4 linked regions of the Homo sapiens genome follow. The protein of the gene in region 2 purifies or fractionates together with the protein of the main gene of each other region. This does not show direct contact. Each region holds a gene or a part of one and is shown on either strand. Other genes may lie near its edges.

Region 1 (5,403 bases), on a different chromosome or scaffold from region 2:
AAAAAACAGACCACTGGGCCGGGCGCCGTGGCTCACGCCTGTAATCCCAGCACTTTGGGAGGCCGAGGCGGGTGGATCATGAGGTCAGGAGTTCAAGACCATCTTGGCTAACACACTGAAACCCCATCTCTACTAAAAAAACAAAAAAATTAGCTGGGCGTGGTGGCCGCACGCCTGTGGTCCCAGCTACTTGGGAGGCTGAGGCAGGAGAACTGCTTGAACCAGGGAGGCGGAGCTTGCAGTGAGCCGAGATTGCACCAGTGCACTCCAGCCTGGGCAACAGAGCAAGACTCCGTCTCAAAAAAAAAACCACACACACAAAAAAAACAGACCACTGCTGCAGGGCCATGGGGTGTAGGAGCAAGGGATTAAAGGTATATAGGCAGAAGAAGCATTTTGAGTTTCACCTCAAAGAATAAGAAGGGTTGGGCCGGGCGTAGTGGCTCATGCCCGTAATCCCAGCACTTTGGGAGTCAAGGCAGGAGGATCACTTGAGCCCCTAGGAGTTTGAGACCAGCCAGGGCAACATAGCAGGACCTTGTCGCTACAAAAATTACAAAAATTACCCGGGTGTGGTAGCTCGCCTGTAGTCCCAGCTACTTGGGTGACTAAGGTGAGAGGGATCACTTGAGCCCGGGAGGTTGAGGCTGCAGTAAGCCATGAGCACACCACTGCACTCCAGCCTGGGCAACAGAGCCAGGCCCTGTCTCAATAAAATAAAAAGAAAAGTTGTTCTCTGCCCCCAGCCCCATTTATATAGAAAAACAGAAGCTCCACCCCTCCTGTCCAAGGAAACCTGGAGCACAGAGGTGGGGTTACTTTAAGACTTAGGGCCGGGCTCAGTGGCCTCCCACTTTGGGAGGCTGAGGCAGGAGGATTGTTTGAGCCCAAGAGTTCAAGACCAGCCTGGACAACACGGTGAAACCTTGCCTCTACAAAAAATGCAAAAATTAGCCGGGCATGGTGGTGCATGCCTGTAGTCCCACCTATTCGGGAAGCTGAGGAGGGAGGATTGCTTGAGCCCAAGAAGTTGAGGCTGCAGCGAGCTGTAATCATGCCACTCCTCTCCAGCTTGGGTGACAGCGCAAAACCCTGTCCAAAAAAAAAAGGGGGGGCAAGTCCCAGTTTTGCCATTAAGCTTCTTGAGAGCCTAATGCAGGATGGCCTCTCCTTTCTCTCATCTCCTGCAGCGCTTAATATCAACAGCATGAGGGCTTGTCTGACTTCGCTGTGTAAGCTACTCGGAGAGCAGAGACCGTGTTAATGATCCCCGGGCTTCACTGACATTGTGTGGAAAGCACAGTACTTGCACATACTAGGCTTCCTTTTAATCTGACTGATTCCAAACGGCCCCTAACCTACAATGGTTTGACCTGTGATTTGATGTTGTGACTTTACAATGGTCTGAAAGCTGTAGGCATCAGCACATACCTTGACTTACGATGGCCTTGTCCAGATAAGGCCATCGTAAGTTGAAAATATCCTAAGTCAAAAATGATATTTTCAACTTACGATGGGTTTTTCAGGATATAGCCCCAGCCATCATAACTTGAGGAGCAGCTGGAGCTTGTTAGAGCCCAGTCAGTAAAACAAAAGGCCAGGAGCTGGGTGCCCTTAAATCTTGTACCTGGTGTGGACCTCACACACTCATCCAGAAAGTGGAAGGGCACTAGTGCCCTAGATCTGGCCTTGAGGTCCTCACACTCCTGATTAGGTTTTGTATAAATCACCTTATTAGAGACTGGACCCATAATATACATTGAAATGTTAACAGTCCTGCTCTCTGAGCAGTGAGAATAGGGGTGATTCTTTTTATTTTCTTCACTCTGCATTTCTAAATTTTCCAGATTTGAGATGAGGAAAAATCAGGTCAGTCCTTAATACTCAGAGGGAGGGGGATGACCTGGTTTTTGGTGGCAGAAGTGAGAATTCCTACTCTTTCATCTTAGATGGCAGTTACCTTACATAGATCACACACAAGATGCCTGTGTTTATGCCTTTCTCCCTCGTGAATTACTAGTTCTCATCATTATAGATCCATAGAATGTTAGAACTGGAAAGAAGGTCAGCTCCCCTGATGCTTATCCCCCTTCCTCAGACCATGGGTCTCTTGGAGACGGAAAGTCCTCTTCCGTTGGCCCCACAGCTGTTGTAACACTGCTTGCCTGTCATTTAGAGTGCCCATCATCATTCTCCTCTGCTGACAACCTCTGCCGCAAACTGGAGGACCTGCAACAGTTCCAGAAAAGGGAACCCGAGAATGAGGAGGAGGTGGACATCCTCAGCCTCTCCGAGCCAGTGAAGATAAACATCAAGAAGGAGCAGGAAGAGAAACAAGAGGAAGTCAAGTTCTACCTGCCACCAACCCCAGGGTCTGAATTTATTGGGGATGTCACACAGAAGGTAGGGGTTGTGGTGTTAATAGTTCATGCAGCAGACCAGCTCAGAGCTAGATGTTCAGACGTTCAGCTTCACAGACCCAGACCCAGGTGTTCAGCCTCACAGACACAGACTCAGACCCAGACTCTTCTGGTGCCGTAGATGCTTGACTTCCTTCTGCCTGGTTGACCCAGGTGTGCTCTCAGGGCTCCCACCGTCCCACATCAGAGCCCTTGGGCAGAAATGCTAATTACATGTGAAAACATTGCTTGTTGAACGCAGACGTGAAGCAAAGCTGGCTAGATAGAAATGGTTGATTACTCTTCATCTTGTTTTTCTCATCTGCCTCAGTAGAAGCACCTTTCCCTCATGAGGCACGTCGTACTCTTTCTGAGTTGCACGTCAGCGCGTAATCCTCCCCTGATGTGTTGATAGCTCCTGAGTGCCCCGCCTGTGGTGCAGATGGCGTGCACCTGCCTTACTATACAGGAGAGAGGTATTTATCCACCCTGCTGGAGCCTAACAGCTCTTCAGCATCTGCCAGTTGCTCAGGGCCCAAGGTGAAAGACAGTGTGCTTTCATTGGATGCCATGAAGAATGGGCAAGATGCAGTTTCCAAGTGCAAACAGGACGTTGGAGTCTGATTCCAGACCTTTCAAAGTGTTGATTGCGTATCAGAACCCAGGCAGATCCCAACCATGTTCTCCCACGAAGGAGATTTGAGAGATTTTAATAGGATTATAGTCATATTTTAAATATCAGCCAGAAATGTGGAAAAACAAGATAACATTCTTCTAGATGTTATATTCCGTGTTCCTTTCCCGTGAATTTTGCCCAATATGTTTGCAGAGTCCTCCTTCCAACCAGGCATCGCTTTGCATGTCAGGGAGGTATGCTTGTTTGGAGAGAGGCTGTTTCTAAAGCAGCGATACGAACAAACGGCTTTCTTCTGCTTTTCCAGATTGGGATCACCCTGCAGCCCGTGGCACTCCACAGGAACGTGTATGCGTCCGTGGTGGAGGACATGATCCTGAAGGTGGGTGCCTGCAGGGGCCGCCAGCCAGGAAGGATGGTTGCATCCCAGGCGGTTTGGAGTAAGGGGCAAGGACAGAAAAGGAACAAAGATAACAGGCTTTAAAATGTCTCGTCTTATTTGGGCTTAAGTTCTCTCTTTTTGTTTTTTTGTTTTTTTTCCTTCTGATTTTTAAATGGACTAAGTTATGTTTCCTCTGAGTCATGTGGTTTCAGGTGCCTCCTAAGACGTATTCTGGGGGTGGTGGTCAGTGTGCTCGTTGCTTTAGGAGGTGGCAGAGACAAAGCCTATGGTTTTCTGTACACGTCACAACAGCAAACAGCCCCAACTGTCCTGACCCTGGCAAGGGGACGAAAATGCCGCAGCCTCCTTCCCCAGCCTGATCCTAGCTCAGCAGTTCCTTTCCTCGTGGATCCTCTCCAAGAATAGGGATACCTCCGTAACAACTGCTTTCCTTAAATACAATGTCTAGGGCTGGGCGCGGTGGCTCATGCCTGTAATCTCAGCACTTTGGGAGGCCGAGGCGGGTGGATCATTTGCAATCAGGAGTTGGAGACCAGCCTGGCCAACATGGTGAAACCCCATCTCTACTAAAAATAAAAAATTAGCTGGGCTTGGTGGCGCTCACCTGGTAATCCCAGCTACTTGGGAGGCTGAGGCAGGAGAATCGCTTGAACCCGGGAGGCGGAGGTTGCACTGAGCCAAGATCGCGCCACTGCGCTCCAGCCTGGGCGCGAGAGTGAGACTCCATCTCAAAATAAATAAATAAATAGAATAATGTCTGATTAATGAAAATCACTCCAATTCATAATTTCTCAGAATCATGGCCTTTATCATTATGGTCTATTATTGAGGCCTTTAATTTTTTCTTAAGGACTTTTTAATCCCTAGTTGCAGTGGTTTCAAACATTTGGGGTAAGGGATGGGGTTAAATGTGTCCCTTCTTGCCAGCAAGCAGATGGCCATTTGAAGAATAACAGCATCTTCCATTGTAGGCTACAGAACAGCTGGTGAATGATATCCTGAGACAGGCTTTGGCAGTTGGATACCAGACAGCTTCTCACAACAGGTATTACTATCTCTGCAGTCTGTGGTGTGAGGCTTACACCTCTTTCCTAACAGTTGAATTGCCCATGAAGGTGTTTTATACTTACATCAATCCAGTAGGAGATGGAGTGAGTGCTTAGGACACTCTTAGAGCCAGATGAGCTCAAGGGTCTGCTTTGTCATTTTTAGAGAACCTCATGGTTGTGAAAGCTCACTCAGCTTTGCTCAGAGGTTTATATCCTCCTCATTACTTCACAGACACCTAGGACTCTGTTTTATTACAGGGTTGAATAAATATTAGCTTTGCAATTAAAGATAACAGTGTCCATTACATGTCAGACACGAGGGCCAAGCGTTGCATATATTACCTAATTTGTTTTTCATTGCAGAACTATTATTCTCTTTTTAAAAATCAGGAAACCGGGCTTTGAAAGGTAATTTTACCCAGCTTACCCAGCAAATACAGTGTAGACCTGGACTTCCGACTCAGGTCTCATTGGCTCTGAGGCCCCTGGGCTCGCCACTGCTCTTTGCTGACTCGTTGTCTTTGATTAAGACACTGAGTTTCAGTCTGTTCCTAGGCCCTGAAAGGATGGTAGATAGGCCACATCTGCTTTTCTTTCGGAGGAAACAAATATTATTTTATTGCATTATGCTAAAGGCTGTCACAGATTTATAAAATTGTAGCAAAGTGCCTGAGGACATGAAGGGCCTAAATCAGAGGAATAGTAGATGAAACTTCACAGGAATATATCAGACAACATAGGCGTCTTTAGAGAAAAGGAAGGGGAACCAAGAGTTCCGGTCCTGCTGCCCACTGTCCTGCTTGGACCCACAAGTGAGCCAGGGCCTCCTGTGGCCCCTGCTTACCTCTGTGCTCCCTGTCCTGGAGGGGTAGAGTGACTTAGGTGCTTTTGATGGAACGATTAACATCACGCCTGGCC
Region 2 (5,403 bases):
AAATCTTTTTCATGAATAATATTGTACCAGTTCCAAATATTTTTATTCATCAGCTACCAAAAATATATATTTTAGCAATTTCTAAAGAGCAGATTTATCTGAATTTCAAATACGTAACATAAAGATAAATTTCACCTCAGTTGAATTTCTCTATGACCTTCATTAAGTAAACTTTTAACAAGGAATACATCTGCTTAAAGGGAGTATACCGGGACCACAGAATCCCTGTGTACTTTCTTAATTAGGTGTTTTTTAACAACTCCTCTTAACACGAGCCAAAGACCTAAAAAATCTCTAAGGAGTCATTCAAAAATACATGCAGAAGATTCAAAACACAATCATGTAGAAAAAGTCCTAACATGAACTCTGGCTTTTCTGTTGATTATATGACATTAAACTCCATTGTGAATCTTACAAAATTATTTTTCTTCATAAAATAAATCAAATTTGGCTGGATGTAGATGTTGGAAATGCAAAACTATTAAGTTACATATAAGGATTAGAGGTACCCATCATGAAGAGAGAGCCTTGGGTCAATGGAAAGTTTTAAATGTAAAACTCAATAGCCAGAGTCTTTTGTTTTAATATTTAAATACTAGAAGATACATTTCATATCATTCTTACATATTACAAACATTCACCCATTCTTACCCAGGAACAATCATTTTGTATTTATTGTCCTAAGAGGATTTTGTTTTTGTTAAGCTGATAAACACTTCTTCCCCATATCTTTGAAATTAAAAAAGAGTAAATATCTTATGCAAGCTTTCTATTCAGTGTTTTATAGTATCAGTGTAACTGATTATTGAATTCACCAGTTTTAAGCTGAATTGTCATTTTGTCTATTTAATTACTACATAAAATACCATAATTTGGGAAATTGGATGAGGAAGCTTATCTCTATCAAATATAAAAAGGAAAAATAAGACTTTTTTCCTCCTGGATTGACTGTTGCTTTAATGAGATAGTTTGTATTTTACTGAGAAAGAATGGAGAAAGTAAGCAAGTCAAATTAAAAGGAAGTCTATCTCAATGTCAGCTGTCAATCCAGGAGACTCCCAGAGCAATCTTTCAACTTTCAGGCAGATTTATGACTGCAGTTTAAAACTAGCAGTGCCTGAGTGGAAATTTATAATTATTCTAATCAAATTATTGCTGAGCTACAAATCATAATTAGCCAGCTTAATTGGAAGATAAATTAAATGTTTATTTTTATTCCACTTTTGTCAGATGCAGAAGTTGTAACCTGTCTTTAGTAATTATGTGAGAAAATGTTATTTTAAAATGTCAAATTTTGTTTTGTTTCTGACGCTTTAGGTATATAGAAGGTACACAGAATCAGAAAAGATTATAAAAGAAAGCAAGATTTTTGTTAGTGACGTCCTGTTTCCTCTGAAGAGTAATAGTTGGAATCAAAAGAGTCAACGCAATGAACTGTTATTTACTGCTGCGTTTTATGTTGGGAATTCCTCTCCTATGGCCTTGTCTTGGAGCAACAGAAAACTCTCAAACAAAGAAAGTCAAGCAGCCAGTGCGATCTCATTTGAGAGTGAAGCGTGGCTGGGTGTGGAACCAATTTTTTGTACCAGAGGAAATGAATACGACTAGTCATCACATCGGCCAGGTACTTATTTATTTAAAATGTTACAGTAAATAGCACAACAATGTAAATAAATATGTTGGAGAAGTTTGGAGATTTGATGAGTTCCACATTTTTACAGTGAAGCCATTGAAAAGCTTCAAACAGCAGCATCAATAATTGTTTCAGATTTGCAAGCACCTAAAACATCCACTAAAATCTTGAAGAGGGATAGCTCTGGTTTTTAAATTTCACTTCAGTATCCCGTATGAAAATGCAGCCCTCATTTTCAACATCTGGAAACTTTATTGCGTTATTTTTGGTAATGAATCTAAGCAGTCACAGTGAGACAAATATCATTTACCAACAGTATTTAGCCCGATTTTCTGTTACGCTAAGTAGCTGTTGATTTACCCCTCGTTCATTTTTAATGAAGCAGGTTAATACCATATTCTCCTACAGTTAAGTAGCTTCAGGAGCCTACACACTTAAATTGATTAGTAAAGTTAAAGTAAAAGGAATAATTATGTTCACTTTCTTAAAAGAATATATTTTAAGAACAATTCCTTAATGAGACAAAGCATCTCCTATTTATGTTTTTGGCTTGTATTTTATTATTTGGTTTTCTTTAAACAAAGGTGATTACAATATCATGTCCTTTTCCATAAGGCTTTTTCTCTAGATAAATGAACTGAAATAAGTTTAACCGCTAATTAACTGGCACTAAAATTTAATTGGGCCCAAAGGGTGAAGCACTCAAAATTTATTAACTCTCATTTTCTAGCCCTTTCAGGAGAGCTGCAGTGTTAGCATGGTATCTGGATTCCATAGAACTTCACCTGTGTTATCAGCCAAATGTATATGAGTACATTCAACCAAAGCCTTAGATTAGGATTTTAGGCAAGTATTTCCAAACGTGCAGGGAGGAGGGTGTATTGTGAACACACACACACACGCATACACACACACACACATTACAAGAAATATTTCTCAACCCCTTTTATTTTCGACTCAGACTACAGGTAAATAATACGCACAGTTGGCACTAAGAAGGTCCACAGTTAGGTGCCGACTCAGTAACTGAGTCTCTAGCTACCTTTACAGTGGACTGCACAGAACACCATATACTCTCCCATCACTGAATGGGGTGACAGGCTAAAATCAGCTATTGGCTTTTAGTAAATAAGGTGTTATAGGGAAGTGCATCAGTGTAATTGGAACACAGGCCACCTCTGGGGCTGTCACATTTTCTAGTTTGTTTGTTTCTACTCCCCACATGAATCTCTGTTTACCTCCTTTCTCACAGTGATTGGTTTTGCCTATTTTTTCATTTCAGAGACATATTTATGAAACTACTCTGAAAAATGTTTTTCTGCTACACAAACTCATCAGGCTTAAAAAACAAGTGAATCACTGATTTCAAAAAGAACAATAATGAATGTTTAGGTGCTTGTCAAAAGAGTTAGTAAATATACAATTTAGCTGCTGCGTTCAAGATAACTCTCTTTGATCCATTTGTTTGAAAAATGATTAAGATTGGGAAGTACAATTAAGTGAAAATTTGAAGTGATATTTGTTTAGCAAATTGATAGTAGCAGCCTAATTAGGAAAATATTTTTTGAATAAAAATATAGAAAATTGTATAATACTACAGGCCATTTGATTGAAATGTGTTTAACATATGCATTTTATGACATTAAAAGGCTGGTGTTCAAGTAAGCTTTTTCGTTTTTGTTTCTGTCTTCCCTTAAATCTGGGTCTTAAAAATGTCAAGCTTACTTGTCTTTGAAAATTACACTGCACATATACTTGCAATATATTTACTTATTACTAAACTTAATTTATCTTCATTATAATATCAAATAAATTATCAAATCATATTGAAATGATATAATTTAAAAATATGAACCATACATTGCTCACTTGATATATTGATTTGATTGTATAATTTGTTCCTCAATTTCTTACATCATCGCATGAAGAATTTCTTTTAGGAATAATTAAGAACTATCAAAAGAAGTATTACCAGAAAGACAATCTGGATGTTATTTTTCATTACATAGCATTGATATTCGGCATGTTATTAAAATGCAAAATTAGTTACTAGTACCTTCAGATTTTCTCCACAACCGCAAAGAAAGTGTATTAATTTATCCAGTATAAGAAATTATAACTTAAGCCATCAGAAAAATCATGAATTTGTTTACAACTGATTTCATGATTATCTTTGTAAATTTTCAGAGGAACTCTTACTGTGAATAAGAGCATTTTCATAAATGGTGAATCAAGAAAATGTGGATTCACAATGATTAGGGAACCATGACATTCTTCTCTTACATACAAATAATTCTGATATGAAAAGCTATGTGATCATTTTAACTATATCAGAATTAGACGGGTTTTTTTACAGATAAATTAAAAATTCTAAATAATACCTCAACAGTATGAATGATGAACTAATTTACTTTGCTTTTTGAAAATATGAAAATGAGTGCACAGGCTGAAAGTGTGTATTTGAGAATTAGGTAGAATATATTGAGAAGAAAGTTTTATACTTTATGGCTAAAACCCAAGGGCTAAAGAAGATGTAACTGAGTTGTTGTCAGTGGACAGTCTGAAATTTGACAGCCTCATAGAAGATTTGATAGCCTCGTGGTGTAAATTCTATATCTACACAAAGACCATATGACTCTGAAAAAAGTTTGTAAAACAAAATCTCACTTTTCTTCTCTATAGAAAAATTGATCATATCAATAATATGTATTTCATAATATTGATATGAGAATTACTTGAGAACACTAATATAAAGCAATTTATAGATTTTATGACATGTAATAAATACCTAATGAACAGTCAAGATTATCATTATCTTTATGAACCCTAATTTTCATCCTAATATTTTCTTGTTTCCATGTATATTCATGCAAGAGATAGAACATCAGTGTTTAAATGTCACTAAATTGTCTTTCTATCTATCTCAAGGACCCAATCTAGTATAAATATTTGAGAGTATAGTTTTAGTGACTGAGAATTTAATTATAAATAAAAACTGAACCAACTATGTTGTGCATAACTTACAAAAGAAGCTTTATTATCCAATTATTTTTGTTTCTGTTTAGAATAATGAAATGTGTATAGTTCTTTACACTAAATATTCACTCTTCCTTCTCCCTGGTGATAGATTTTAATCTTGATATTAATATTTTGCCTCATTTAATGTAATGTGGAAATAATATAAAATCATTAACTTGGGGAATAATTAACATACATAAAAAGAAAATCTTGATTTTGATTTGTCCATTTCAGATGTTTGGAAACTAAATGATCCCTCTTTCCATTTGCAGCTAAGATCTGATTTAGACAATGGAAACAATTCTTTCCAGTACAAGCTTTTGGGAGCTGGAGCTGGAAGTACTTTTATCATTGATGAAAGAACAGGTGACATATATGCCATACAGAAGCTTGATAGAGAGGAGCGATCCCTCTACATCTTAAGAGCCCAGGTAATAGACATCGCTACTGGAAGGGCTGTGGAACCTGAGTCTGAGTTTGTCATCAAAGTTTCGGATATCAATGACAATGAACCAAAATTCCTAGATGAACCTTATGAGGCCATTGTACCAGAGATGTCTCCAGAAGGTATTGCATATTAATTTACATCAAAGATATATTAACAATGAAGCAGGTTTAAAATTTGAAGGATATGTTTTGGAAGTAGATGATTTAAGGGTCTATACTAGAACTTCCTTCTACAAATATGTTTAAGTAAAATATTTGAAAAATTAGACTATGCATCAAAATTTTGAGAAAAGGGTACTACATAT
Region 3 (5,403 bases), on a different chromosome or scaffold from region 2:
TGGTACATTTCTATACAAAAAAAAATAACTGTTTAGACCCCATCTCTCCCCACTGCTTGTCACAGTGGAAAGATGTCTTTTGTTGAAGACTTCACTCACTCATCTGTTTGCTGTATCTGGTGACTACCTTCCTTCTCAGTATCTCACCCCTTCAAAAAGGCTCTCTCCTGTAACCAACTGAACCTTATCTCTATCGACTCCTTTTCCTCAGCTTTTATACATACGTGAATCTCTTCCACTAAAAAAGGCATCCTTCAACCTGGCAATCCCCTTTCAGTGCTGCCATCTTGCTCCTCCTTTGTAGTGAGCCCTTTTGAAGAGTATCTACACTTAAACCATCACCCATTCCTCACCAATCCATTTACTTTCTGGTTCCTAGTGCCACCACTCCACTGAAACTTCCCCCAGCAAAGTCCCCCATCTCTGTTGCTAAACACAAGGGGCTACTTATTTAGGCGTCACCTTATTTGACCATTTGGCTATATTTGACAGGACTCTCCTCTTCGAACTCTTTCCTCGCCTTCCATGTCATGCTGTGCGGGTTTTTCTTCTTGGATTTCTTTTCTTTCTAACCTTTAAATACTAGTGTTCCTTGAGGCTGTAATCTGAGCCCTCTTCTATTCATTCTTACACTATTCATTCTTCCTGGAGAATCGCACCCACCCCACAACTTTTGTACAGCATCCTCTGTAGGCTAAGGATTCCTGAGTCTCAATCCCTAGCCTTCCAAGAAAATATGAATTCTCTAGAAAGTTTAATTTAAAAATGTATCATGTGGCTGGGCATGGTGGCTCATGCCTATAATCCCAGCACTTTGGGAAGCCGAGGCAAGCAGATAACTTGAACCCAAGAGTTCAAGCCTGGGCAACATAGTGAGACCCTGTCTTTAAAAAAAAAAAAAAAAATCATGTGATGATGACTGCTGGAAAAGCCTCCAATCCAGCACAGCAGTATTCTTAAGAGATTCCAGTTGTTAGAGATCTTCCCTGGATTTCTTATTTTCTGGTGATTAGCTTTAGGTAGATATTAATAAATGAGGGGAAGGTACCTGGGCAGTCAAGAAATTAGCCTTCAAAAGATATATATATGGGAAGTTATTTTTCTAATTAGTGGAATATTGGCAAGTAAAGTTTAAAGATGGAGAATGTACTTTACAGGACCTGGAAAAAGCAATTAATATATCAGCACCTAAAATGAAAACCTAAAATTCTGTAGTAATAAAAAGTGAACAATCTTTCTAAATTAATACAGAATTATTCAAATAAGTTTCTTCCAGTTTTCCATTGCCTGACCATGAGTATAGTAAATTCTCTACAAGATTGCCTTTTTTTTTTTTTTTTGGTGGTGGTGGTGGTAAAAAACACGTAACATATATTTACCCTCAACAACTTCTAAGTGTGTATCACAGTGTCGTTAACTATGTGTACATTGTTGTACAACAGATCTCCAGAACTTTTTCATCTTGTGTGACTAAAACTCTGTACTCATTGAACAAATCCCCATTTCTCCCTCATCAGCCCCAGCAATCACCATTCATCTTGTGTGACTAAAACTCTGTACTCATTGAACAAATCACCATTTCCCCCTCATCAGCCCCAGCAATCACCATTCTATTATACTTTATGTTCCTATGAGTTTAACTACTTTAGATAATCTGTATAAGTAGAATCATGCAGTATTTGTCTTCTGTGATTGGCTTATTTCACTTAGCATAATGTCCTCAAGGTTCATCCATGTTGTAACATATAACAGGATTTTTTTTAAGGCTGAATAATATTTATTTGTATTTATGTACCACATTTTCTTTATCAATTCATTTGTCAATGGACATTTAGGTTCCTTCCACATCCTGGCTTTTGTGACTAATGCTGCAGTGAATATAAGTTTCTGAATATCTCTTTGATATTCTGCTTTCAGTTTTTTTGGATAAATACCCAGAAGTGGGATTACTGGATCATATGGTAGTTCTATTTTTAATTTTTTGAGGAACCTCTGTACTATTTTCCATAGCAGCTGCACCATTTTAGATTCCTGCCAGCAGTTCACAGGGGTTTCAGTTTCTCCACATGCTCACCAACACTTGTTTCTTGTTTTTTTGATAGTGGCCATCCTAATGAGTATAAGGTGATAGCTCACTATGGTTTTGAGTTCCCTGATGACTAGTGATGTTGAGCATCTTTTCACACAGCAAGCATGCTTGTTGGCCACTTATGTATCTTTTTTGGAGAAATATCTGTTAATTACTTTGCCCATTTTTTATTCAGGTTATTTGTTTTGATGTTATTGAGTTGCAGGCATTCTTTACATATTCTGAATATTTACTCCTCATCCAGTATATGTTTTGCAAATATTTTTCCCATTCTCTAGTTGGCCCCCACAAGGTTGCCTTTTAACAGCCCAGGACTGTCTGTTATTTCACAGCCTTAGCTTAATCTGACTCTGGTAATTCACATCAACCCCAGCTTGATTCTTACCTAATTCCTAACTCTAGACTTAAATTTTGACTGCCTTCCCTTCCCACATTATCTTAGCTATCTTTATTGATAGCTTTACTGCCAACCCTGATTTTCATTCCCCATGACCTCTTCTTTACTAATATTTTAGTAAATGATGATTTTAAAATAAGGCATATATTTGGCATAAAACAGGAAAAAATTATAATCTCTGTATTAATCTTAAATGTAAAAATCTGAAACAGAAGTTAAAATCTGTTTTATAAGAAGTAAATTCTTATGTTAAAATATCCAAATTTGAAAATATTCCCTTTGAAGGAATAAGAGAGGCATGCTATTTTGAATCAATGCATTTGGTGAGTGTGTAGGGAGATAGTCATAGTTGTTGTGTGTGTCCCAAAGTCTTACACCTCTTTTTGGCCCACTAATCAAACTAGAAATGTCACATGAAACTTCTTGAGTGAACTAGTAATTTTACATTTGCTAAAATAGAGCTATAATAAGTGGCTGAATGTTCTGATTGACCACACATAATGTAGAGTTTATTTCCTAGCAAATAATGAAAGATCGATGGATGAATGTTGGTCATGAAGAGGAAGAACTAAAGCCATATACTGAGCCTGATCCGGATTTCAATGACACAAAAAGAATAGGTAAGTATTTAAACATGGTAAGAAGTGCTGTCCCTAGGCAACAAGTAAGAGTCCTTTAGTGTGCCAAAATAGTGTTTAAGAGTATAAATAGGAAGCAATTTTTATTTGAAAAATACTTGCATTGTCATTTTAATGATAATATGCTGAAAATTATACATTTCAAGTTCCCTAATTTGTTCCCATATATATTATGGTCTAATTCAATGTTTGACAACAGTGATATAAAACCTAATGTAAATAAATCGAATTCTTTCCTTTCAGTGATGCCCAGCAGGAGGAATGGCTGATGTAACTATCAGCACTGATCAGACTGATAAGCATCAGCGAACATAGCATGTATTTTAACCAAAGACATAGAGGCACCGAATTAAGAGTTGAACACTTTGGCTCTCCCTTTCTTTTTCCACTGTCTTAGCAATGTTTATTCTCCCTCCTCACTCGTCCTGCTACTGCCCATACCCAACCAGAGCTCTCCTTCTAACTTGTTCTCTTCATTTCACAATCCCTTCCCAAAGCCATCATTTAGTCTCAGCTGAGTCATCTCAACTGTGTTCCTATCTGGCTTGAGGGCAGAGTGGCAGGGGAGAGCATTTTAGGGTGTTAGGAACCTGATCAGAAAAACCATGGAAATTCAAATCTCCCAAAGAAGAGTCAACCTACTGCAAATCAGAAAGCAGAAAATTTTAAGAGATGAAAGAAACCACTTCACTAGTAGCTGAGGACGAATTGAGAGAAAGACAGAGAATTTTGTGTGTAACAAAGACTGACATGGTCTTAGACTGGACAAAGAAAGTTAGCTCAGGAATGTATTAGGCAATGAGAAATTAAGTGGGCCCATTAATATATTAACCATGATGTAGGTAATTTCTGCATGTAAAATTATCATTGTACAATATCTGTGAACATATGGTATCCGTAGGTTAATAGTCCAGAAGTTTTTAAAACTACACTTTAAATTTTCATGACTAAGTTTTCATATTCAAAGATGGCAAACTTGCCCATTTTTGTTGATTTGTTTACGAAAATAAAACCATTTTCAGAAAATTTCTCTTTTTTAAATTTCTAGACATTATGGTCACCATGGGCTTTGCACGAGATGAAATAAATGATGCCTTAATAAATCAGAAGTATGATGAAGTTATGGCTACTTATATTCTTCTAGGTAGAAAACCACCTGAAGTAAGTTTTTCACCTTTTCAGATTACTGTGAATTATTTCTTGAGCTAATATATTAGTTAATATATTCTTTGTGGAATCAAAAATAATATAAAGATCCTACCCTAACATTCTTATTTATTGGAATTCAAAAATCAAGATGTTAAATTATGAACTGGTTGTATTTCTGGGTACCAAGAGAGATTTTATGAAAGAATAGGTCTACTGTCTTTCTTAGCTCCAAGAGCCACCATTCACAGCCTGGCCTTTGAGAATGGCCTCCCACACAGCTTGTGCATCCAAATGTAACAGTCCCACCAAAGGTAATATGGTTATTCCAAGTGTGCAGAAAAGACAGTGAGTGAAACATGAGGAAGTGATAGCATTTAAAATAAAATGTATGTCTTAAAGGATTTTTAAAAGAGGTAACTCCAGGAAAGGTTATTTGATGATATTTTGCCTTATAAAGTGTCAAGTGACTGATGCTTTCAATTGGGAATTCTCAAGGCCAGGAGAACTATAATAAGGAGATGGATTCAGGAAATAACTGCATACAAATGGTGAACTATGTTAGTCAGTTTTGCATTGCTATAAAGAAGTACCTGAGACTGGGTAATTTATAAAGTAAAGAAGTTTATTTGACTCACAGTACTGCAGGCTGTACACAAAGCATAGTGTTGGCATCTGCTTCTGGTAAGGGCCTCAGGAAGCTTACAGACATGATGGAAGGTGAGGGGGAGCCAGCATGTCACATGGCAAGAGGGAACAGGTGAGAGGTGGGGGAGGTGCCACGCTCTTTTAAATAACCAGATCTAGCGTGAACCCGTAAAGGGAGAACTTGTTACCACGAGGGCAGCACCAGGCCATTCATGAAGTGTCCACCTTCCTGACTCAAATACCTCCCTCTAGGCCCACTCCAACATTGGAGGTCACACTTCAACATGAGATTTGGAGGGGACAGAGCATCCAAACCATATCATGAAGCATAAAAGCAATGATTCTTTAGGAAAACAAATATAAAGGCTATACATCGAGAGTCAAGAACAGATCGCAGAGCATTAACAATTTATTGGAAGTTAGACATCTGTGGGAGGTATTTTAGAGAGAAAAAGCTGAAATTATTTATAATTCCGTAGTAACTG
Region 4 (5,403 bases), on a different chromosome or scaffold from region 2:
CAGGAGGCCCTTCGCTAGGTAGGAGTCACCACTGTGCAGAAATGCGGTTATATTTATCACAGTCATGCTCAAAACAGAAAACTGCAAATAGCTTGCACACCTAACAAGAGAGAAGCAGCTACATGAAATGCTATATATCTGTGTAACTGGAATCCAGCACAGCTGGGATACTGAAATACGTGCATGCTTGCTGACAAGGAGACAGGGTTTATGACCCTCTGGCTGCTGAGTGAAAAGAGCAAGTTCCAGTGACAGCACATGGAGGGAGCCGTACTTTTGTTTTTAAAACAGCTATGCACATAAGTAAAAATTACGCCTACAAAGACTATTATATTCATATACATCAAAATGAACCTTTTAAAAGTGGAATCATGATTTTTTTCCTTGAGTTTGAAACCACAGAACAGCTTTCTCTGGGAGACATGTGATCCTGGGGCTACAGAATGGAGCAGCAGAGGAGTCTCCACTGCTCCTGCAGCCTAAAAGGCACAGCAGTGAGAGAATAGCAGTGTCACCCAGCGGACACCACTGGGCCTGCTCGAGCTGACCCTTTCTGGCTTGGGGCCCCAGGAGAGAACAGGACTGATAATGCATCTCTCCCAAGCCCCCATCTCATCCCAACACCTGGGGCACGAGGGGCTGGGAAAGGTGTCCTTACCGGCTGCATGGTACCCCCCGCAATGACCACTGCCCGGCATTCCTTCACCACTTGGGCAAAGTGCACAGCTGGATTCAGGAGCAAAAACTTCAGGGTGCTCTGACTGAGGCTGCCTGGAAAAACAGATCGGTGGGAGGTGAGTGCAAGCCCAACAGACACTTCTGTCGTCCCAGCAAAGGGGGTCCCCCAGGTGAGTCCAGGTCTGAGGCACAAGTGCTAGTGCTTTCTCTTTAAATTAAACACCATTTAATCTCTAGGACAACCAGCCCACAGAGGTGGACCACACTGTCCTCTCCATCCTTTTTTTTTTTTTTTTTTGAGATGGAGTCTCGATCTGTTGCCCAGGCTGGAGTGCAGTGGCTCAATCTCGGCTCCCTGCAACCTCCGCCTCCTGGGTTCAAGCAATTTTCCTGCCTCAGCCTCCCGAGTAGCTGGGACTACAGGCACCCACCACCACACCCTGCTAATTTTTTGTATTTTTAGTAGAGACGGGGTTTCACTGTGTTAGCCAGGATGGTCTCGATCTCCTGAACTCACGATCCGCCCCCCCTCAGCCTCCCAAAGTGCTGGGATTATAGGCGTGAGCCACCGCGCCCGGCCTATCCTCTCCATTTTCATATGAAGAAACTGAAGTTGAGAAAGAAAATAGTCCAAATCACAAGGCTCATAGATGACAAAATCATGACCCAAACCAAAGCCCACCTACCCCACAGTAGAAGTTTCCCTAGGACCCCTGCCCTAGAGGACCCCCATCCCAGCTCCTCGATCTCCTCCCGTCCACCTCCACTGCTTACCCTGGTCACGGGACCCCCATCCCAGCCCTTCGATCTCCTCCCATCCACCTCCACTGCTTGCCCAGGTCACAGCAGGCCAGTGCCCACTGCACTGCTTCCTCCTAACCCAGGAAGTTCCCAGGATGGAAGGAAAGAATCCTTTCACGCTGCGGCTCCCGGGCTCAGCTTGGCTCCTTCCTGGGAACTGAACCTGGCCAAGAACCACCTGATTACCTTGGCGGCTCAGGATGACCCTGCCGTCCTGGTTGGCCGTAGTGAGAGCTGCCAGGAAGCCTTGGATGTGCATCAGTGGAGAAGCTGGTCGCAGGGTGCTGGCCTGACTCTCGTCTGCAGGGGCTGCAAGAGCTGCACAGAGCAGAACGGGGAGGAGGCCTCCCTCTGGTCAGGTCCACACATGAGGAACAGAAGTCCTTGCCCATGCGTGCAGCCGGCTCTGCCTGCCCACCCTCCTGCCTCACCTTCAGTCGTCCTGGGCTGCAGGCTCTGCAGGAATTGCTGAAACCCAGCCAGTTTGGGCTGCTCCCGGGATGAGAACACTGCTCCGTACCGTTCAGTGAATCCAAAGAGCTGGGTGGGATGAGAGAGAGCAGTGGAGAGGAACGAGGTACAGCCATGAGAGAGAGGCTGGGTGGATCGGAGGCTCTGCCAGGCCCAAGACACCTGCAGCACACATCCCACCACCCCAGCAAGGCCCACTGCACCAAGGAGAGTGGAGACGAAGGGGACTCTGGAGTTCCCTGAGGGCAGGGGAGGAAAGCATGGCAAGGGCAGGGGGTTGGGGCACAGCTGGGTCTTGTTCAGGACCACAAGATGGGAGCAGTTACCTTTCTGCTGATCATGCTCTTCTCACAGTATCGCTGCACCTGCAAAAACCAAGCCCAGCTGTAGGCATGAGTGCAAACTGAGCAAGCTATAATCTTAAAAACAAAACAAAAAACACCACTTCTACCACCCAGGCAGCACAACGCAGTGCTACCTTCTGAGGCACCTGGAGCCTCCTTGCCACCAACCTTGTCATCTCCTCTCCGAGGCCACCCCCTCCTCTACTGCCCCTGCCCACAACGCAGTGTCCTCCTCAGGGTGGAGACCCTCTTTCCAAATGTCTCTCTCAAGTCTAAGAGTGCTCAGTAAAATCCAGTTCCCCTTGGCTTTCCTTCCAGGTGACAAAGAGTTAAAAAAAAAAAAGGAACTTCTATGAGCAAAGCCACAGAGGAGATGATGGCTGGGACCTGCTCAGGGGCTGGGGCAGTGCCACTCAGTCGGTGCATCCAATGTGTGTGGTTTGGTGCCAGATCTTAGCTTGGGATGCAGAGATGAGGAGTTTGGAGCCTTTAAACCGGTTTCTAAAAAGAGCGACGTCCTTCGATGAGGATTCCCTCAATGGTGAGTGATGAGACCCGAGACCCATGGGAAGAAGAGGGGAGAAGGAAAGCAAGGAGGGCAAAGGGAAGGCGAGAGAAGGAGTGCCTGCACCCATGTCCCAGCTGTGGGAGAAGCGCAGGGACGGCAGGACTGTCTCAGGCTGTCAGGCCTGGCGGCTGTCACAGGCATGTGGGAGACAAGGGGAGAAAGGCATCAAGGATGACCTGGATCCAGCCTGTCTGGCAGGGATGGCGGCAGTGACAGTGACCCAAATGTGTAATTCAGGGGAAAAGCTGGTTTTAAGAAAAAAAAGGCAGGCAGGATGGGAAGAATGTGGGGCCCCAAGTCAGTGCAGCCAGGTTTGGACGCTGTCTCTGCCACTTGCTATTGGCTCACTTGTGGGAAGCCTGTGCTCGCCACCCTCCTGAAGTCACCTCCACGGGCCTGTTTGCTTTCCTTGCTGGGGCAAAAGGATATCCTAGCTCAGAGCACAGCACATGGCATGCCGCCTACAACAGAGGCAGAACCCTGTACCCGGGGGCAGTCACTGTTGCTGATTTGAGTTACGAGCTTGGGGTTCAGGCGGCAGTGGCCGTGTTTCATCTGGGGAGCGCTGGGTACACAGACCTGGAGTGAGCAGAGGTCTGAGGCTGCAACCAGACCCAAGGCCCAAGTGGGAAGACGTGACAGGGGTTGCACAGAACAAATCAACGTCCTATTCCTGTCCATAAGCCTGAGGGAGACTGTGCCAGAAGACGGAGTGAGAGAGCAAGGACCTGGAGTCTCTATCTGTTCTATGGGGCACCAAGAAAGGTCCCTTTCTCACCCATCCCTCATCCCTGTGGCCTTCACTCTAAAAGAAGATGACTTTTGTCTCACAGGCATGTTGCGTTAAGGGTTAAGTAATTACACATCTGTTTTGCTTTTTCTTCCTTCTACAGTCTTAACATAGTACTTTACCCACAGGTGGTGACAGGAAGGAAATTGGATGTGGAATGTGGAAAGGTGGAAACCTCTACCTTGAACAGGTTGATGTTGTCGATCTGGCTCTGGAAGAGAAAGTCGTTGATGGTCTTCAGCTCCGTCCCTGAGAACAAACACATGAAGGGCCTTGGGAGCTTCACCCTAAGCCTCAGGTTTCAGTCCCAGGGTTAAGCTCGGAAGTGGCTCAGATCAGCTCTGGGCCCTCTGAGGGCAACTCTCTTACCTGTCTGTGACAGACTCTGTGTATTGGGATTTTGCTTAATGTTCCCTAAAAAAGAGAATGGAAATAGGTCACAATGCTGGTTCTCAGGACCCCCAACCCTTCCCTATCTTCTCTCCCTCCACACTGCACATCAAGTAAGAAGAGCATCTGTATTTAAATGGCTTTGTTTTGCTTTTCACTGTTTATAGCATGCAACGGACCCACTGAGAGGGCAGGTGGGTCCAGGAGCCTCCCATGTCTGACTCACGTGCTTGCACGTGGAACCCAAAGCCCTGTAAGTTCATGTTTTTCACCCCTTCTCCAGGAGGCCGGGACACAGCAGCCAGACCAAGGTATGCAGGGCACCGGAGCACAGAGGAGCTGCCCAGGCCACTGGTGAGCCTGAGGCAAAGCAGAGCTGGTGGCTCAGAGCAGCAACACGAGACCAGCTCCCGCCAGGAGCTCCCACAGGCTTTCTGCAGCTTCCACTTCCACAGACGCCTTCCAAGGGGGTGCCCCATCATAAAAGAAGGGGACGTGACAGGGTCATGCAAAGAGGCGTGGGAGCTGGAGTCAGAAGATCCCAGGCTCCCGTGCTGGGAGCAGCCCTTGCTCCGAGCTCTAGTTTATGCGTCTATCAACAAGGATTCAAATACCAGCACTGCGTTCTCACAGGGCACACAAAACCGCATATGCAAGTGCTTCGAACAACCCACAGAACTATGCCTATCACGGAAACACCGTGTGTCTATGTGATGCTGTATCCTTAATATCCCCCCAGAGCAGGGCCTGAAATAAAAAGTCCTCAGAACATGGGCAAAGAACCCATGGGTCTAAATAAAGCTCAAGTCAGACAACTCAACTAAGCTACAAAGAACAAGAATTTTCTAAATCAATGACCAAGACCCTTCTTTTTTTTTTTTTTTTTTTTTTTTGAGACTGATTCTCACTCTGTCGCCCAGACTGGACTGCAGTGGCACAATCTCGGCTCACTGCAACCTCCGCCTCCCGGGTTTGAGCAAGCAATTCTCTTGTCTCAGCCTCTGGAGCAGCTGGGACTACAGGCCACGGCAACACTCCCAGCTAATTTTTTTGTATTTTTAGTAGAGATGGGATTTCACCATGTTGGCCAGGCTGGTCTCAAAACTCCTAACCTCAGGTGAACCACCTGCCTCGGCCTCCCAAGTGCTGGGATTACAGGCGTGAGCCACCGCACCCGGCCGACCCTTCTTAAAAACACAGAGAACTGAGGTGTCCTGATGGGCATCCAAGGAAAAAGCAGCCCAGCGAGTTTTGCAGGCCCGGGGTCAGCAGGGGGACGAGGCTCTCACCCCCTAGCACAGCCACGAATTTCTCCAGCAAATACAGGATCTGCTTCAGGTACATCAGGTTCTTGGCCTTCA

Evidence for each region.
Region 1: the proteins of CDH19 (region 2) and YEATS2 purify together in Homo sapiens (affinity purification with mass spectrometry; 2 studies listed by BioGRID and IntAct, with this or other methods). This does not show direct contact.
Region 3: the proteins of CDH19 (region 2) and MARK1 purify together in Homo sapiens (affinity purification with mass spectrometry; 2 studies listed by BioGRID and IntAct, with this or other methods). This does not show direct contact.
Region 4: the proteins of CDH19 (region 2) and DDX11 purify together in Homo sapiens (affinity purification with mass spectrometry; 2 studies listed by BioGRID and IntAct, with this or other methods). This does not show direct contact.

The regions. Positions count from the first base shown.
Region 1 is NC_000003.12:183,804,690-183,810,092, forward strand, and holds part of YEATS2 (YEATS domain-containing protein 2), read left to right. Parts: intron 1-2,176; coding exon 2,177-2,403; exon of another isoform or gene 2,404-3,340; coding exon 3,341-3,415; exon of another isoform or gene 3,416-3,423; intron 3,424-4,040; exon of another isoform or gene 4,041-4,163; intron 4,164-4,407; coding exon 4,408-4,481; intron 4,482-5,329; exon of another isoform or gene 5,330-5,403. UniProt on the Homo sapiens protein: Chromatin reader component of the ATAC complex, a complex with histone acetyltransferase activity on histones H3 and H4. YEATS2 specifically recognizes and binds histone H3 crotonylated at 'Lys-27' (H3K27cr).
Region 2 is NC_000018.10:66,568,231-66,573,633, reverse strand, and holds part of CDH19 (cadherin-19 isoform 1 preproprotein), read left to right. Parts: intron 1-1,317; 5' UTR 1,318-1,429; coding exon 1,430-1,624; intron 1,625-4,923; coding exon 4,924-5,218; intron 5,219-5,403. UniProt on the Homo sapiens protein: Cadherins are calcium-dependent cell adhesion proteins. They preferentially interact with themselves in a homophilic manner in connecting cells; cadherins may thus contribute to the sorting of heterogeneous cell types.
Region 3 is NC_000001.11:220,628,029-220,633,431, forward strand, and holds part of MARK1 (serine/threonine-protein kinase MARK1), read left to right. Parts: intron 1-3,006; coding exon 3,007-3,106; intron 3,107-4,172; coding exon 4,173-4,285; intron 4,286-5,403. UniProt on the Homo sapiens protein: Serine/threonine-protein kinase. Involved in cell polarity and microtubule dynamics regulation. Phosphorylates DCX, MAP2 and MAP4. Phosphorylates the microtubule-associated protein MAPT/TAU.
Region 4 is NC_000012.12:31,093,253-31,098,655, reverse strand, and holds part of DDX11 (ATP-dependent DNA helicase DDX11), read right to left. Parts: coding exon 5,332-5,403; intron 4,067-5,331; coding exon 4,022-4,066; intron 3,902-4,021; coding exon 3,834-3,901; intron 2,316-3,833; coding exon 2,277-2,315; intron 2,020-2,276; coding exon 1,911-2,019; intron 1,798-1,910; coding exon 1,666-1,797; intron 772-1,665; coding exon 659-771; intron 480-658; coding exon of another isoform or gene 355-479; intron 1-354. UniProt on the Homo sapiens protein: DNA-dependent ATPase and ATP-dependent DNA helicase that participates in various functions in genomic stability, including DNA replication, DNA repair and heterochromatin organization as well as in ribosomal RNA synthesis.